Regions from separate parts of the Homo sapiens genome. Here region 2 is linked to region 1. The links come from fine-mapping of genetic effects on gene expression. A gene starts in region 1. The other region holds a variant in brackets. All regions are shown on one strand. Distances are from middle to middle.

Region 1 (9,073 bases):
ACAAAGATCCTCCTTTTGAGCTGTTTCTACCCATACATAATTAAAACTCCAGACTTCTGAGCATTTTCTTCAAGTTTTTGACATATTCAAGTACCAATACAGCTATTATTTGTTTAGTATATTTTAGTTGATTTAATAAAAATACAGAGGCTATGTATTTTAGTCTTCTTAGAGTCATATATCTATAAAAGAAAAATGTATATAAAAATGAAAATATTGGACCAGGTGCAGTGGCTCATGCCTGTAATCCCAACACTTTGGGAGGCCAAGGCCAAGAGATCGAGACCATCCTAGCAAACATGGTGAAACCCCGTCTCTACTAAAAATACAAAAATTAGCTGGACATGGTGGCGTGCACCTGCAGTCCCAGCTACTCGGGAGGCTGAGGCAGGAGAACCGCTTGAACCCAGGAGGCGGAGGTTGCAGTGAGCCAAGATCACGCCACTGCACTCCAGCCTGCTGACAGGGCGAGACTCAGTCTCAAAAAAATATATATATATATTATATATATTATATGTATAATATGTATTACATATATAATATATATAATATATATATAATATAAATATATATATAATATATATAATATAAATATAAATATATATATAATATATATAATATAAATATATATTTATATATATACACACACACACACACACACACACACACACACATATTGAAAGAGGTCCATCTACTTATCACTTAAATTATTTCAAAAGCCACTTTGTGGTATACTGAACTTACAAGCTACTCTTTCCCAAAGGAGCTCCCCAATTCTCAAGTATTGCTTCCTTTGAAAGAGCAATCAGTGCACCCCAAAACCTGCCCCCCATGATCTGTTTCTCCATCATCTTCTGGGCAAAGTCCTCAACATTGCTTGTGATGTCAAGGCTTACTTCGGTTCACTCAGAACTGGGTTTATTGTTCTTTAGGGGGTAGCTTCTTAGTGGCTATCACTGCAATCGAGTGATCTTAGAAGCAAATTGCCAGTCATGTGCACACTTGAGAGTGTCACAATAGACAGATTAATGTCCTGTCCTTGATTTTGATACCACATCCACTGTAGATGGCAGCTGATTATGGATAGAACATTGTGGCAAAGGCCATGATCTTCAGATGATGAAACTGGATGTTAGAGAGTTTGAGAATACTAGTCCCCAAAACTGTCACCTCACAAGGCCAAGCAGTGAAACATAGTTTAAAAAGAAGAGTTTAGATGAAGGAAGATGTTTACTATGAAGAAACTTCCAAAAAACAGATACTTAGTGACTGAGAGGCTCAATGGTTAAGGCTTTGGTTCAATTCTCGGTTCTGCTAATTATTAATTTTGTAACTTTGAGTAAGTTCACTGTACTTTCATATCTCTCTGACCGCTCATCTATAAAATGGGGAAAATAAAAGCTGTTATTTCCCTCAGAAAGTTGCTGTGAAGACTGAAGGAAAATGTACAAGCAAAACATTTAGCACATTCCTAGCACAAAGAAGGTGCTCCGTAAAAAGTGGTTATTTTTATTATTACCAATATTTTATTTTGATACTATTATGGCATGAAACAAAACCTCCTGGAATTAAAATAAACAGACAGGACAATTGAGGGCAAGAAGGAGGCAGCATCCGAAAAGATAAATGTGGTCCATGTGCCACAGCTGTTAACACACCTCTTCTCGGGGCTTAGATCTGAGTGAAGGCTGCTGCACTCCCGTGACTGGGTATGGCTGTGCTGGTGATGACTCACCATGGAGTAGGATATGGGTGATAAGAAGAAGTCCTGCTCCTGAGACAGCTCCCAGGATGGAGGTTGCTTGGCCTTCAGGAGGAGGCTGAGTAGGAATGGTGGACCTGGCAGCTGTGCTGCCCTATCCCTGTGGCTGGCTCAGCTTCTCTGACAGGGAGAGAACCTAAGTCCAGGCTGTGGTGGCTGTCCATAGGCAAATGTCACAGAGCACACTCCATCTTCAACTTTCTCTTATCAAATCTAAGTGGTCTCCATTATCATCTTCCTAGGGAAACATCAGCTCAGGGGCTTTGATTGATAGAAAAGGAGTGAGGAAGGGAATATGTGTGAAGGAAGCTAAAAGCCCATGGGGAGAGTATTGGACTTTCTGTGGAAGGGAAGTTTGAAGAGGAGGCACCATCAGGGTGTACCCACACAGACCAAACACCTCTAGAATCCTGAGTCAGCTTTTTCCCCTCACTCTGATTCCTACTCCCCCCTTAATCAAAATTCCATTGTTCGCTGGCATCACTATTCCCCTAGTCATGCAGAAATGCAACTTGGAGCTCCTCTGTGGCTCTATCATAAACCCCTCCTCCATTCAATCCATTGCCATGACTTTATTCCATACAATTTTTCTTTCTACGCACTTCCCTCCCCTCTGCCATCCCCTTGGGCCGGGCCCTCCCTTCATCACTCCTGCAACACCAAACTAACCACTCTGTTTCTTGTCTTTTATCCAATCAGTCCAGATCCCCAATACCACACCGGCGTTTCTTAGATATTATTGTATCTTGCCACACCTTTCCTCAAAAGCCTTATTTTTCCCAATGCTTTCTTTTCTAATGTATGAAGTTCTGACTTTTCTTTATGACTTTCATGATACCCGACCAGCTGGCCCCAGGGGGCACAATGGCTTTACTCCACTTCTCCACACCCACCCTCATCCTGGCAAGTGCACCATGGCCCTAGCACAGTGCTGATGGAATCTGGAAATATCGCCAGGGGATCATTTGCAAGACTAACCTAATAAATTACATTATTTTTTTCCTGGGATGAGGAAACAAGGACAGAGTTGAAACACCTTCCCCCAGAAATGTGCTTGCCTCTCTCAGACCACAGGTAAGGGCTTAATATGATGTGAGAAAGAGGATTTCTGGCTTGGAATGCAATTCATTTCTATTAACATTTAGAAAGCATCTTGGGTGGGCAGGAATGAAAACCAGACACTGTACATGCTATGACATAGTTTTCAATCACTAAGGAGATGAAGAGGCAAGCTATCAGTGTAACAGAAAGCAGAATGAAAGAAAGAGGGGCTCAGTAAAGCCTTATTCTTTTGTAGAAGGCATGAGATCCTATGAGGTAGGCATAGGCAAGTATTACCCTCATTTTCCAGATGACAAAACTTGCTTACCTGCCTCAGAGTTTAAGTGGCTTGTTTATTGTCACAGAGCTAATAATTAGCAGATTAGGGTCTCCTAGCTGGGTGATCTTTTGAATGCATGACTTTGCCAGCAGCCAGCAGAGCTATGAAACACCGAGAGAAACAATTAAGCATGCTTGGGAACAGTGTGAATGGGCATGGAGCTGGGAGGCCTCCTGGGAAAGGTGGCATTTGACCTGGGAATTGATGAATCCCAGAAAAGCCAATCAGAGAGGTGTGAAAACAAAATTAAAATGGAGACTGGGCCTGAAAAATTCCCAGGCAAACAAAGCCAAAGACCTTAAAAATAGCCATATTCTTGCTAAAACTACAAACATAAATTAAACTTAACTTGGGTCAATTTCTGATAAATGCTTACAACAAATAAAACTTAACCCCAGCCAATGATAAGCAGCCAACTAACATATGATTATGTGACTAGGGACTTTCCAAAAAGTTACCTAAAAAATGCAATTATGTAACTGCAAACTAAGCAAATAATGTTTCATTTTGCTTCTATAACTTCCCAATAAATGCTTGCCTCTGACATTTTGTCATCGCAACACTAAACCTTTGTCGGTCTGGTGCTCCCCAATTCATGAATTGCTTCTTACTTAAATAAACTCTTTAAAATTTTACTGTGCCTCATATTTTTTTTAATACAGAAGAAATGAGAGAAGGAAGAATATTTTAGAAATAAAGGAACTTCATGGGCAGAGTCACAGTGCAAGACAAAAGGAGCAGACCAAGGGCAAGATTGCTTGGGGAGTGAAGACTCCCTCCCTCTTCTCCCCTGAGAAGCTGAGATAAAGGGGGAGGAGAAGCCTGGGTGCCCCCCACTGATAAGCAGGCTCCACCCAGAGGCCAGTCCTGTGTGTCTGGGGACAAGGCGAAAGAGCAGCAGAAGTGCCCCTTCTCCAGGATCAAGGAACTGGGGCGGGGGGTGTTTCCTGGACCCCAGTCCTCCGAATCAGCTCCTAGAGTGGAACCAGGAAGGATTCTGGAGCCACAGAAGATAGACAGATGGTAAGTCCCCTTTTGGAGTCAGAGGCTTAGCGGGGAGGGGTGAGGGTGGCTGTGTGCAAAAGTCCTGCCCCCACTGGAGGGGAGGGAATGTAAGGCTTACAGAGTAGAAAGGTGGGGAGAGAGGGAGGTAATGGGAGAGGGATCGAGAAATGGCACATTCAGGGGACAGGTTCGTTCTGAAGCCCATCTGGGAACACTGCTCCGAGATAAAAATATGTGTGTGGGGGCAGGGCAGGCAGCGAGGGTATCAAAATGGCCTGATAAAACTCTCTTCAATGCACCATTTCCTGAACCAGCTTCTCTCTCCTCCTTCTCCCTCCACTCACTTCAGGAAGGTGGGGACCAAAGTGAGGAAGAGCCGAGGGAACGCAGCCAGGCAGGTGGAATGGGAACTCTCTGGAGCCAAGAGGTAAGTGGCCTCCTCTCCTGGGTCTGGAATACACTGATGTTGTCACTCTCGGCTCTAAAATCCCACAAACACTCATCTACTAACTGTCTGCTTCATCCTCACCCAAAACAGTTGACATTCCTTGTTTTCTCATCTCCCAGGAGTTAAAGTAGGGCTGGGTTTAGGAAGAATTGGGATAATTATTTCTGTATAAAGGGACTGTAGCACCAACAGATTCATTCTCTCTCCTCTTCTTCCCATCCCTGTCTCTCAACCCCCATCTTGTATCTTTCACCTCTTGGTTCCTCCCACAGAGCACTCCAGAAGAGAGGCTGCCCGTGGAAGGGAGCAGGCCATGGGCAGTGGCCAGGCGGGTGCTGACAGCTATCCTGATTTTGGGCCTGCTCCTTTGTTTTTCTGTGCTTTTGTTCTACAACTTCCAGAACTGTGGCCCTCGTAAGCAAGATCCCAGACCCCCTAACCTAGTCAGCCCTCCCCCAGCCCTGGGGCCCAGGCCCAGTCCCTGCTCCTGGGGCTTCTGCCCACCCTGACCCTTGGGGTCCCCATGGTTCTTCTTCCTCCCTGCATCCTAACCATTTCTTTTTCATCAGCTCCCCACTTAGTTACTCACCTGATGTTCTTTGCCTAGCCCCTTGGGGGAGCCCTTGTCTTTTTGCCTCTTCTTTCCCAGCTCTGAGCTTTTCCCCACAGGCCCCTGTGAGACATCTGTGTGTTTGGATCTCCGGGATCATTACCTGGCCTCTGGGAACACAAGTGTGGCCCCCTGCACCGACTTCTTCAGCTTTGCCTGTGGAAGGGCCAAAGAGACCAATAATTCTTTTCAGGAGCTTGCCACAAAGAACAAAAACCGACTTCGGAGAATACTGGGTGAGGAAAGCAGGGTGGAAGATGCTCTGTGCAAGTGGGTGACTCTGTGCCTAAAATGACCATGACTGCTCCAAACCCTGTGTAGTTGTGGAACAACTGATTTGCACCATCCCAGGTGGGATTATACGGGTGGATGATTGGAGATGATGGGGGAGTAAAAGAGGCAGGATGGCGGGAGCTGCCTGGGTTTGCTCATCTCTCACTGTTTCCTGTTGCCTTGCCTTGGGTACCCTTCTTCCGTTTCTCTTGGTCCCTTTCTGCATTTTTTTCTTTATCTAATTTCCATCTTCTTTGCTTCTCCATGTATCCATAATTACTCCATTCTCTCCAACTTGTCCCTTTTAGCAAGCTCCATCTTTGTTGCTTCCTCCAAATGTTCAGTTTCTATCCTATGCATGGTGTTTTCCTCCACAAGCATCTCTTCAGCATCTCCTGCATTTCAATTCTTTTGTCCATCACTCTCATTCTCTAACCTCCAAAACCTCAGTCTCCCAATGACTCCTTGTCAACATTACCCTCTCCCTCTCACCATGCCGGAGCTCCCCTCTCTCACAATGATCTCTTGCTTCTTGCTTCTCCATTGAAACCTTGAACCATGGCAAGCAAGTTGACCTGGAACAAGTGGGATGTTAGAGATGGATGATTGGAGATGATGGATGATGGTGGAATGAAAGGGGTAGGATGGTGGGGTGAGAAGTGAGAGAGGGCTTCATCACTGTGCATAAGAGAAAAAGTGGGTAAGTACAAAGGATATGCTGGAAGAAGAGGAGAGCTGAGTTAATTGGCAGTGGAAGTAAAGTTCCTGCAGATGGAGGCTGGAGAGGAAAACTGCCAGGACTGAGAGGAAAACCAGAAGGATGAGCTGAAACTGAGTAGGAGGTTGGAAGTGCGTCCCAGGAAGTTGGTGGATGGTGGTGAGGATTTGGGAATAAGAACATATAAGATAGACATGCATTTCCAGTGCAAGGGAACCTAAAGAATGTGTTGACACTATCAATTAGAATCTGGGAAAAGTAAATGCACCCCTCTGCCCTCTTTTTTTGATGGGGAAAGAGTGGGAGGGGGCCTCTCTTTGGGTAAATGGATACTTTCAGGGAAGGCACAGAGATAAAAAGAAAAAATATGCTCAGGATAAATTATATTGCCTACAATGGGATGAATAGATATCAGGGGGACTGAGGGTGAAAAGAGTGTTAGATATTAGAGGGTGGATGATTCAGAGAGACTTGCATTTGATTATTGTAGTGTGTTTGTTTCCTGGGATCAATGGATGAGGAGTCTGGACTAGAAGAGTCTTCCCCTGTTTCTTCTCTTTGCTAAACCTTTCCTTATGAGTTTTCTTCTCTCCAAATCCTTAAAGTTCTCTAGTTCCCTGAATTTGTCTAATTTCTTCAATCATTTCTTTTGTCTTTCATTTCTCTCTTTTCTCCTTTGCCCATATCCCACTTATTGCTACCTTTCTCCTTTCTTCCCTGTCTTTTCCTTCTTGGTTTCTTCCCCACATTTCTTTTATTTTCCATATTGTCTTCTTCTCCTCATTCTCTTTCCCTGCTTTCATCATTTCATCAAGTTGATCCATTCCAAATTGGGCAGTCCTCTCATCTTTCTTATTTTCCTCATCTCTATTCCTCCCCCTCCTTCCATATTCTGTGGGAGTCTTTCTTTCCTGTAAGCTCCCTGTCTCCCACCCTCCCTCTTTGCCTCTATACCAGTTGCCACTCCTTTAATTCTCCTGCCGACAAAAAGAGTCAAACTCTGTAAAATATTTGAAAAGATTTATTTTGAGCCAAATATGAGTGACCATGGCCCATGATACAGTCCTCAGGAGATCCTGAGAACATGTGCCCAAGGTGGCTGGGGCACAGCTTGGTTTTATACATTTTAGAGAGTCATGAGACATCAATCAAATACATTTAAGAAATACATTGGTTTGGTCCAGAAAGGTGGAACAACTCAAAGGGGTGGGGGTGGCTTCCAGGGTACAGGTGAATTTAAACATTTCCGGATTGACAGTTGCTTGAGTTTGTCTAAAGATCTGGGATAGATAGAAAGGGAATGTTCAGGGTAAGATAAAGATTGCGGAGACCGAAGTTCTTTTGAAGTCTTATAGTGGCTGCCCTTAGAGACAATAGGTGACAAATGTTTCCTATTCAGATCTTAGTTAATCAAAAGATCTAGCTATGTTAATGAGATATGTTAATAGCTAATAGAGATGCTTTACAGATGCAAATTTTCCTCCACAAAGAACAGCTTTGCAGGGCCATTTCAAAATGTGGCAAAGAAACATGTTTTGGGGTAAAATATTTTTGTTTTCTTCTTTGTCTCGTAATGTTATGCCAGAATCAGGTTAGAAAGTAAATCATGTTACATGGGTTAAATAAAACCCATCTGATGAGAACTTATGATATAGGGCATGACTCCCCAGACCCCTTTGATAGGAATTTGGGGCAAGATAAAAAAAATCAGAGTTTAGTCCTCACTCCCATGCTTCCTTTCTAGAGGTCCAGAATTCCTGGCACCCAGGCTCTGGGGAGGAGAAAGCCTTCCAGTTCTACAACTCCTGCATGGATACACTTGCCATTGAAGCTGCAGGGACTGGTCCCCTCAGACAAGTTATTGAGGAGGTGAGAAAAGTTGGGATATTAACTTTTCTGGATACATAACATATGGGACCAATGCATGCTTAGGGCTGCCATTTTTTTTTCTAGAGGGTGGGTCTTCTTCCTAGGGCCCCCCAATTTCTAGGAGGGAGATGGAGATGGAAATGGTTATGCCCTATGAAAGTATCAGGACCTTGGGAGAAGGCAGATAAAAAAGGATAGATGTGGCTTCCTAGAGGAATCGAAGGGCGCAGGGCAGAGGTCAGGCAGTAGCAGCTGTGTAAGAGCCGATCCAGACAATGGGGGATGGGCTCCACGGATCCTTATGCTCAGCCCCCTCTCTCTCCTTTAAAGCTTGGAGGCTGGCGCATCTCTGGTAAATGGACTTCCTTAAACTTTAACCGAACGCTGAGACTTCTGATGAGTCAGTATGGCCATTTCCCTTTCTTCAGAGCCTACCTAGGACCTCATCCTGCCTCTCCACACACACCAGTCATCCAGGTGAGGGATGCACTGGCGAAGACACAGTTGGACCTGGCCTGCCTCCAACTCTAGCCAATCATCCCTTAGAGGAAGGTTGCAGGTTGGGAAGAGAGGACACCTGTGTGATATAGGAAACAACCCTACCTTAAGGGAAAATTATTGATGTGAAAGTCAGGGACATTAGCTGGGGGTGGGAAATGGAGCAGCAGAGCCAGTGCTGGGAAGACAGAAGTAGGCCTGGTCTTTCTTACTGTTAATCTGGATTAGTCTCAGAGCCCCTTAACCAGTCCTCCTATCTCTAGGATTGCCCTCATTTTATTTACTCTTTATTTTTACTAGAGGGAACTTTTCTAAACCAAGGGCTAACTAACTATGCTACTGTCTGTATTTAAATGCTTGTCAGTGACCCAGTGGCTTGCCAGGTCATCAGAATCTAGTCCCTAATCTTTAGTAAAGCTTTGCAAGCACCTTGTGATCTGACCCCTACACACTTCTCCAGCCTTATCTCCCGTACATTCCTTCTCTCCCTTACCCCCAAGCCATGCTGA
Region 2 (9,073 bases), 330 kb before region 1:
CAGCTCACGGAAAAGGAAGAGTCAAAGGCCAACACGGATTCTGTTCTGCTATCCTGCATGACCCAAGAATGGTAAGAAGAAAGAAGAAAGGAGGCAAGCATGGAAGTGTAGGTAAACAGGGAAGTATATGGAACAAGTGAAAAGAACAAAGAGTGAAAGAAAGGAGATAAAATAAGAAGGACAGGAAAAAGACAGATCAAAAATCCGTAACTGGAATGAGTAACCAAAAAAAGGGCACCAGAGTTAATGAAGCACAGAAAAGAGTAAGAGTTCTCAGAAAGGAAGGCAAAGACACGGGATAAGAGACCTGAAAACAGGATATGGTGGTGCACGGAGAGCTGACCAGCCTGAGAGCCATGGGCTGCCCAAGTCCCAGCACACCCCATGCATTGGGAGACACTTACAGAGCAAGAGAGGCGGTGGCAGCAGTGAACAGAAGGAGGTGCCCAAGGGATCCAATAGCACCTGAGAGGAGCAAACAGGAAAGTGAGAGCTGGTGGGAGGCTGCCCAGGAGCCACCACCCAGGTGCTGGTCTGCTAGGGCACTCACCTCCACGGCAGGCCTGGATGAAGAACATTTTTGGTTTGTTCTGTAGGCTTGGGCAGTTGGCGTTGTCAAAGAGCTGAAAAACCTCTTGGAGCTGCCAGAAAGAAAGAAGGAAGAAGAGAGGTTAAGCATTCAGCGGGGCCTCCTAAGTCCTACACATGCAACAGTAGCCATCACTTGACAGACAGCAGGCAGGAGGTAAAGCAGCCTGGTTTCAACAGTTGGCTTCCACCAGGGTATCCGCACCTGGAGCAGTTTCCCATCCACACCATAGATGGCGCCCTCCACACCATGCGAGAGGAGTGCCACGATGCAGGAGTCCGTGACTCGGTGTGCAGGTAACTGTGCAAAATTCTGCAGTTTCTCTTGCATTTCCTAAAAGAAAGGAATGTTTAGTGTTGTGCACTAAGGTCAGCACCAACATAAGCATCAAAGTTTGGTTTCTTTTTGAAACCCTAAGCTATTAGAAGATAAAACGCTTTATGTATATTCCTGTGGTCAATGATAAAAGAAGAGACCTTTTGAGAGACTAAAGAAAGCTATGGACTCACCAGAAAAATGCATATGAGTTCAGACACAATATTCTGAATACAGATTCAGACTCACTGAGATAGGCAAACAGCTCCTGGATTAAAGCAAGTTACTAAAGAAGCTAATCATGAGCTGGTCAACTCTGATTAATTCCCTGTTCATAACCAGATCCTTCATTAGAGCAACTGCCCTTGTATATAAATGGCACAAGGGTGACTCAAAGTGTAGCTATGAATAAGTAACATGCACATTCAGCTACACGAAAATAAACTGTTCTGTGACAGCATCATGATAGTAGAGAATAGCAATACTTGTATGTTGTCTTCTAAGATTCTAAGTGTCCAAGAGATAATGATGATGACTGTATAAAATGCTTTGTTTCAGAAAGAGCACGCTATGAAGGAGGATTCTGTACAGGGCAGTAATTACATACACAGGTCCTGGGTTCAGATTAATCTAGGTTTGAACCTTGGCTTCATGAGTTGGAACAGCTTACTCAGACCCTTGAGACCTCACTTTTCACTTTATAAAAAAAAATTATGAGGATATTTTCTCTAAGTTTGTGAAGATAAAAATGAGATATTATGACAAAGGACTTGGCCTGGACAACCTAGCAAGACTCCATCTTTAAAAAAAAAAATTAGCCAGGCATGGTGGTGCATGCTTATAGTCCCAGCTACTCTAAAGGCTACGGTGGAGGGATCACTGGAGCCTAGGAAGTTGAGGCTGCAGTGAGCTGTGACTGCACCACTGCACTGTAGCCTGGGTGACAGAGAGAGACCCTGTCTCAAAAAAAAAACCAAAAACCGATCACTGTGTCTGGGACACATTGCAAAAAATGTGCCATTACAATGTGCATGTCGAATAAAGAGTATTTTTCTCAAAGAAATCTATTACTGGTCAATGTTGTAGTCCAACTTAAGAACTGTTTTCCTGTTTATCTTTTTTTTTTTTAGACAGGATCTTGCTATATTGCCCAGGCTTGAGTGCAGTGACTATTTACAGGTGTAAGATCACTACTGATCAGCACAGGAGTTTTCACCTGCTCCATTTCTGACCTGGGCTGGTACACCCCTCCTTAGGCAACCTGGTGGTCCGCCACTCCCAGGAGGTTACCATATTGATGATGAACTTAGTTTGGACACCTGATCAGCATAGCACACTACAGCCTAGAACTCCTGGGCTCAAGGAATCTTCTTGCCTCAGCCTCTAGAGTAGCTGGGACCATAGGCATGTGCCACCATGCCTGGAGAATCTTGTTTATCTTGCACTAAGTTGCGATACATGAAGAGCACTACCTTAAGCATTTGGTCCATCCATCAGAAGGTTATACTGTGTACCTAAAGAGCATAATAATTGGGCACACATGTTTAAACCTATGCCTCCCTCTATAATTCACGATGTCTGGGTCTTCTGAGATGGGCAGAAAGAAAACAAGTTCATTTTATTATAAACTTGAATAAAATGTAATGAAAATAAGTAAGTTATCTGGGTGGAAGAGTTAAAACACACATATATTTAATCACACACACTGCCAAAATAAAAAGCACACTTCTATAATATAACATATTGCAGTAGTTCTCAGAGTGGCCCCTAAAGCAGCAACAGCAGCATCACCCAGGAACTTGGAAGAAACGTGAAATCTTGGGCTCCAGCAAAATGTGTTTTAACAAGCCCTCCAGGACACTGTGATATGTTAAAGTTTGAGAGCTACTAATTGATCTGTTCGGAATACTTCTGTTTGTAGATAATTGAGATGCAATTACATAAAATATTTGAAAGTCTGCAATATAACTAGAAATAAAGAGACTGGTGTTGTTGAAAAGTATCTGTATTTTCTAAGTAGAAGCAAACCATAATAATAGAAATCTTAAGGTAATGACAGATAATCAAAAAATTCTTTCAAGAATATATAATTTCAAGAGAATACATAACTGTGAATGTTCCTCTGGAGCTGATGCTAATAGAATTTAACATTTAATAGTTAAAGAAGTTAATTTTGCTCAAAGAAGAAAACAAAGGCCGGGCGCGGTGGCTCACGCCTGTAATCCCAGCACTTCGGGAGGCCGAGGCGGGTGGATCACCTGAGGTCAGGAGTTTGAGACCAGCCTGACCAATGTGATGAAACCCTGTCTCTACTAAAAATACAAAAATTAGCCGGGCGTGGTGGCATGCGCCTGTAATCCCAGCTACTCAGGAGGCTGAGACAGGAGAATTGCTTGAACCTGGGAGGCAGAGGTTGCAATGAGCCCAGATCGCGCCATTGCACTCTAGCCTGGGCAACAAAAGTGAAACTCCATCTCAAAATAAAAAAAAAGAAAACAAAAATTATATACCTGGGCACCGAATCACGAGCATTTTGAATTTAGTGAGATTAGGTCAGTAAATAGAAAACAATGTCCAAAAAAAGAATACACGCACTTTGTAACCAAACTTAGTAAGACTAAACCATTCAATAAATGGGGATTAGACATTTGGAGGAATTTTTCTACAAGTAGCATAGCTTAAAATAGGATCTGCAGATTTGTTTTTGATAAAATTACAGTACTTCTATAAATAGCAGGGTTCTTAACTCCTAAGTGTATTTTTGGCTAGGGGTTGGGGGACATGTGAAGAGAGTAACTTGTGAACCCTCTGAAATTATATGCTAAATTATATGGGCAGCTGCATTTTCCAGGGATAACCCATAGCTTGTCCTTACATTTTCAAAGCAGTTTGTGACCCAAATGCAAGCTAAAAAAACAATACCACATGGTAAAAGGAAATTTCCACTTTGAAGAGTACGTTTCCTAACATAGGGTAAATCATAATTCTAGAACTAGTAACCTCATGAAGTAGATGCAATAAAAACTTAATAACAAAGAGAAAAGTGAAAACATCTGGGCAGTGAGAATACCCATGTTCACTGCAGCACTATCAGGGGAAGAGGAGTCTCTAAGACTAATTATACTATTTCCTGTTTTTAAATGGAATTCCTCTCTTAAGTAAGAAAGATTTGATAGGGAAAGAAAAAAGGATCTTTTTTTTTTTTTTGGTTCTGTTTCTTTGCTTGCCAAATAGCTATATGATAAACGAGTTGACTCTCTAGGGAGATCCCACCAGGAAGAGAGCATTCTGTGCAGATGCCCAGTGTACCAAATTATGACACCCATTGCAACTACCTGGTTTATAACACACACATTTCTTGTCCACATACTGTTCTCCCTGCCTAGGGTGGCTTCACCACTCCTCTCTGCTTCAGTAACTTCTATCCTTCAAGGCCAGCTTAAGTTCTGCCTCCTCCACTTATCCTTCTGATCATATCTACCTAGGCGCTTCTTCTTCTTAGCTATGACAGAAGATTTTTTCTCTAATCTTGTTTGGTCGTTAGGAATATAAGAGGACACACTTCCTTTTATGCTGATGTCAAAACTCCCTCATCTGATCTTTAAAATCTGTGGCAGCTCACATAGTCCCCCATTATAAGGTGCTTGAAGTTCAACTCTACTGCAATTCCAGTTACAGAGCAATTCAACCAAAGAATTAGAATCCAATAGGTCACTGAATATGCATCAGGCTTACCATAAATGGAAATGCTATTTATGAAGTGAGCTCATAAACTCACCAAATCTGACAGTCTCTGAGAAAACAGCAGTATATATAGTTGACTTAGTGACTCAGTATTTTATCTTTAACTATTAGACATGTAAGATCCTTTATCAGCTGCATACAACTTGAAAAACCATGACATAATAGATTTCTAGTAAAAGACATGGCTAGACCAAAACCTCTAAGAAAACACACACACTGCACATTTTGTTAAGTGACCTTCTGTAGGAATTATGGCTGGTACCCTGCCCTTTGCCCCTTTATGCCCAGCAGACTTCTCAGGAAAGCATATAAACTACCTGAATACTTGATGACTGAAGCAGCTGTTGCTGCCATGGCTTTGAAGCAAGGGTGGATTTAACTACATTGCATATGCTACAAGGGGGAAGCTGGCAAAAATAGCATGTAAAGGACAACACCCAGGTACCTGTGGATGAAACTGGCCTTGCCAAAAATATAGTAAATACATAATTACTCTCACAGAAGGAGGGCAGCTAAGAAAGAGAAATGAAGACTACAGACAATGCTGAATGGAAAACAAAGATCCTCTATCCCAACAGATCAAAGTGAATCTCCTAGCAATTTTAATTTCACCACTGACAACCTCAAAGCAAGTTGAAGAAAGTTCTACTATTCTGGAATCAAAATAAAGAGTGAATATGAATCTACAAATAGGCCATTATTGATTGCAAAATAGAAACCCTAAAGGTCACAAAGTCAGTTGTGCAGTACAGTAACTGAGGTTAATGACGAACAGCCCATAATGAAAATGTTTACAATTTCTAGAAATCTGGTCCACAAACAATCTACCCTATGACTTGTGATTACACAAATGTTAAGAATACTTTCCCAGCCAGGTGCCGTAGCTCATGCCTATAATCCCAGCACTTTGGGAGGCCGAGGGGGACGGATCACCTGAGGTCAGGAGTTTGAGACCAGCCTGGCCAACA[T/C]GGCAAAACCCCGTCTCTACTAAAAATACAACAATAAGCCAGGTATGGTTGCATGCGCCTGCAGTTCCAGCTACTCAGGAAGCTGAGGCAGGAGAATCGCTTGAACCTGGTAGGCAGAGGTTGCAGTGAGCCGAGATCGTGCCATTGCACTCCAGCCTGGGTGACAGAGCTAAACTCTGTCTTTAAAAAAAAAAAAAAAAGTGAGACACCAACTGTGGACTATTATTACTTTATGAAACCACAACCTGAGATGTCAACACTAAAATGGCTGGCCGGCCCTAATTCTTTCTTACTAGAATGCAAGGTGAGAGGCAGAACAGAGTGAGTAAAAATGTAAGTAGAATAAACCAACTTTTAAGACATATCCCAGCAGGCACAGGAACAAACGATGTCTCTGGTCCCAAAGTGTTGTTCAGTCCTCTAATTTACATGTCAATTTTTCCCACCTCAGGTACCTGTGCAGTCTGGTCACATAGAACATGGACGTCATAGCCCAAAAGCTTGAAGAGGGTGACTAGAGTACTGTGGTCCACATCCCCTCCAGAGCGAAATTCCAGTTCTTTCTCTCCAGTGAAGTGCACATTGCTCAACACCAGTGCTAGGCCACGAGGCCGAGACTGCAACCTATATGCCTGTGGAGGAGAGGCCAGTTAGACCATGAGCGTCTTGATAACAGATGATTCCTCGGCTAGATTAGACATTTCAAGAAAACAAAGACATCGTATTTTTCTTCTTAACCTCCAGCAGGTAAAAATAGACAAATGCTCACAGAAGGCATTTAACCAGTAACAACTTTCTGACTAATAAGGCAGAAAGGAAATGTACATGCAAACTAAGTTCAGGTTCCCAGGAAGGGTGTCTAATTTCCCAACTCTCTTCCTCTTGTCATTATGCAAAAACTCACCAGCTGGAAGTGTGTTTGATAAAATTCAGGAGTGCAAGGCTTCACCTGAAGGCAGACAGGACCATCTTTATTGTCTAGGGAGTGTTCCACAGTATCTGTGGTATAGACAGAAAACCAAAAAACTAGTATATAACTTAACCATCAATCTTAATATGTCATTGTAACTTCAGACATCTCTTGCAACTGGGTTGTGATAAATATTGGTCTCACTCACTACCCAAACCTGTAAGCTTCATGAGGGCAGAGACTCTTAGTTTTAGCTCACTAAAGGATTCTCTGCACATAGCCTGCATGAAGCATATGCTCAACTGGCTGAATGACCGAATGGGCTAGCTGATAAAAGCCTCGTTCCAATCACTAGGATGCTCCATCAGCAGGCTGGTGGCCCCAAATGTAGTCTTTTCTTATTCAGCTTTTTAGAGGCCAATTGAGCATGAACTTCCTGCCCATACATGCTACTCAAAGGCCCAATTATCACAAAAACTGTTATCTGGGGTGGAAGGGAAATGGACCAACTATTAATAACACCTTGCCTGGGCCGGGCGCAGTGACTCATGCCTGTAATCCCAACACTTTGGGAGGCCGAGGCAGGCAGATCACGAGGTCAGGAGATGGTGAAACCCCATCTCTTACTAAAAACACAAAAAATTAGCTGGGTATGGTGGCACGCACCTGTAATCCTAGCTACTCAGGAGGCTGAGGCAGGAGAATCACTTGAACCCAGGAGGCAGAGTTTGCAGTGAGCCGAGACTGCACCATTGCACTACAGCCTGGACGACAGAGCAAGACTCCATCACAAGAAAAAAAAAAAACAAAAAACCACAAACTCCTGCATAAACTGTCCTACTAGCCCTTAACAAATTTACTGACAACTGTTCCCAATATAAACTATGTCTCAGCTGGGCATGGTGGCTTACGCCTATAATCCCAGCACTTTGGGAGGCCAAGGCGGAAGGATCATTTGAGGCCAGAAGTTTGACACCAGCCTGGGTAACAAAGTGAGACTCCTTCTCTACAAAAAATTTAAAAATGAGCTAGGTGTGGTGGCATGCACCTGTAATCCCAGGTACTTGGGAGGCTGAGGCAGGAGGAGCCCTTCAACCCAGGAGTTCAACGCTGCAGTGAGCTATGGTGGTGTCACTGCATTCCAGCCTGGGTGACAGAACAAGACCCTATTTCTGAAAAAAAACACAACAAAAAAAAAAAAAAACAAAAAAAAGGGCTCATGTTAGGACAAAGCCAGATACCAGACAAGAAAGGGGAAGTCAATCTGGGACACCCCCCTCCTTTTTATTTTATTTTATTTTATTTTTTGAGACTGAGTCTCACTCTGTTGGCAAGGCTGGAGTGCGGTGGCACCGTGTTGGCTCACTGCAACCTCCGTCTCCTGGGTTCTAGCAATTCTCCTGCCCCAGCTTCCCGAGTAGCTGGGATTACAGGCACCCACCACCATGCCCAGCTAGTTTTTATATTTTTAGTAGAGACGGGGTTTCACCATGTTGGCCAGGCTGGTCTCGAACTCCTGACCTCAGGTGATCCACCCGCCTTGGCCCCGCAAAGTGCTGGGATTATAGGCGTAAGCCGTGGCACCTGGCCTGGGACCCCTTTTAGTCCATCAATTCTCACCTGTCGACAGGCGGAGCTTCTTGTAAAGGGGACAGGACTCACACACCGGAAAAGGGAGACTCAAGTCGTAGTCACAGCTCAACTGTAAGAAATCAAAACTCATGATGACAGACCTTAGGGAAGTGGTCCGGTCCAAATACAACAAAATCTAGTCTCCCTCACTCTGACTTACAAATTCCTTTCCAGTCAAACTAACCCTTCCCAACACCCCATATTACTAAAGCTTCATACCGGTGGGAGTACATGCTGAAGCCCAGAAAGGGTGGTGAGCAACATATCCTCCAGGTGGCCTTGCTTGGTCTCCCTCAGTGCTTCACAGAAGGCATCAAAAGCTTGGGGACCCCTCTTAGGCAGCAAGTTGAGGAGTTCCACATTCTGGCTGAAACTGCCCACTTTGGCCTAAGACACAAGAATAAAACATGAAATCATATTTACTTCTCTAGCTATAATTCTATTTCTCCACATGAGCTTCCTAGTAGTGTCCTCATCCAAGAATTCTTTTTACAGGAAAAGTGTATGTATGGGTGAAGTCCTTTCTGTTATTCTTGAGTTATATATCATTTCTCTCAAATGCTCTACGGTAGAAGGGCATTTCCATTTCTTTAGAAAGGTACAACATCCAGCTGGGTGTGGTGGCTCACACCTGTAATCCCAGCACTTTGGGAGGCCGAGGCAGGTGGATCATGAGGTCAGGAGATCGACACCCTCCTGGCTAACACAGTGAAACCCTGTCTCTACTAAAAATCCAAAAAATTAGCCAGGCATGGTGGCACCTGCCTGTAGTCCCAGCTACTTGGGAGGCTGAGGCAGGAGAATCACTTGAACCTGGGAGGCAGAGGCTGCAGTGAGCCAAGATCGCGCCATTGTACTCCAGCCTGGGAGACAGAGACTCTGTCTCAAAAAAAAAAAAAAAAAAAAGGAAGAAAG

Which allele goes with the higher level. Positions count from the first base shown, and alleles are read on the strand shown. Sizes are in standard deviations (SD) of each study's normalised expression.
For the expression in lung of the gene that starts at base 4,007 in region 1, allele T in region 2 goes with a lower level than allele C (large effect, 0.94 SD a copy in GTEx).

What was found. PIP is the estimated chance that this variant, and not a neighbour inherited with it, causes the effect.
Region 2: its variant is fine-mapped to the expression of KEL in lung (GTEx, PIP 0.92).

Annotation. Positions count from the first base shown.
Region 1 is chr7:142,957,297-142,966,369 of GRCh38, reverse strand. It overlaps KEL (Kell metallo-endopeptidase (Kell blood group)), which reads left to right and starts at 4,007. Exons shown (of 19, transcript NM_000420.3): 1 at 4,007-4,166; 2 at 4,498-4,575; 3 at 4,869-5,010; 4 at 5,266-5,442; 5 at 7,942-8,066; 6 at 8,397-8,543. The coding sequence starts at 4,164. RefSeq lists a cis regulatory region at 1,524-1,925, a silencer at 4,048-4,243 and an enhancer at 7,877-8,592.
Region 2 is chr7:143,291,772-143,300,844 of GRCh38, reverse strand. CASP2 (caspase 2) reads right to left here. Exons shown (of 11, transcript NM_032982.4): 3 at 8,378-8,545; 4 at 8,147-8,228; 5 at 6,521-6,615; 6 at 6,072-6,248; 7 at 794-922; 8 at 551-641. It also overlaps the pseudogene RN7SL481P. Among named protein-coding and RNA genes, the nearest start is that of CASP2, 8.0 kb to the right of the region's middle. The variant T/C (reference allele first, on the strand shown) is at 5,617.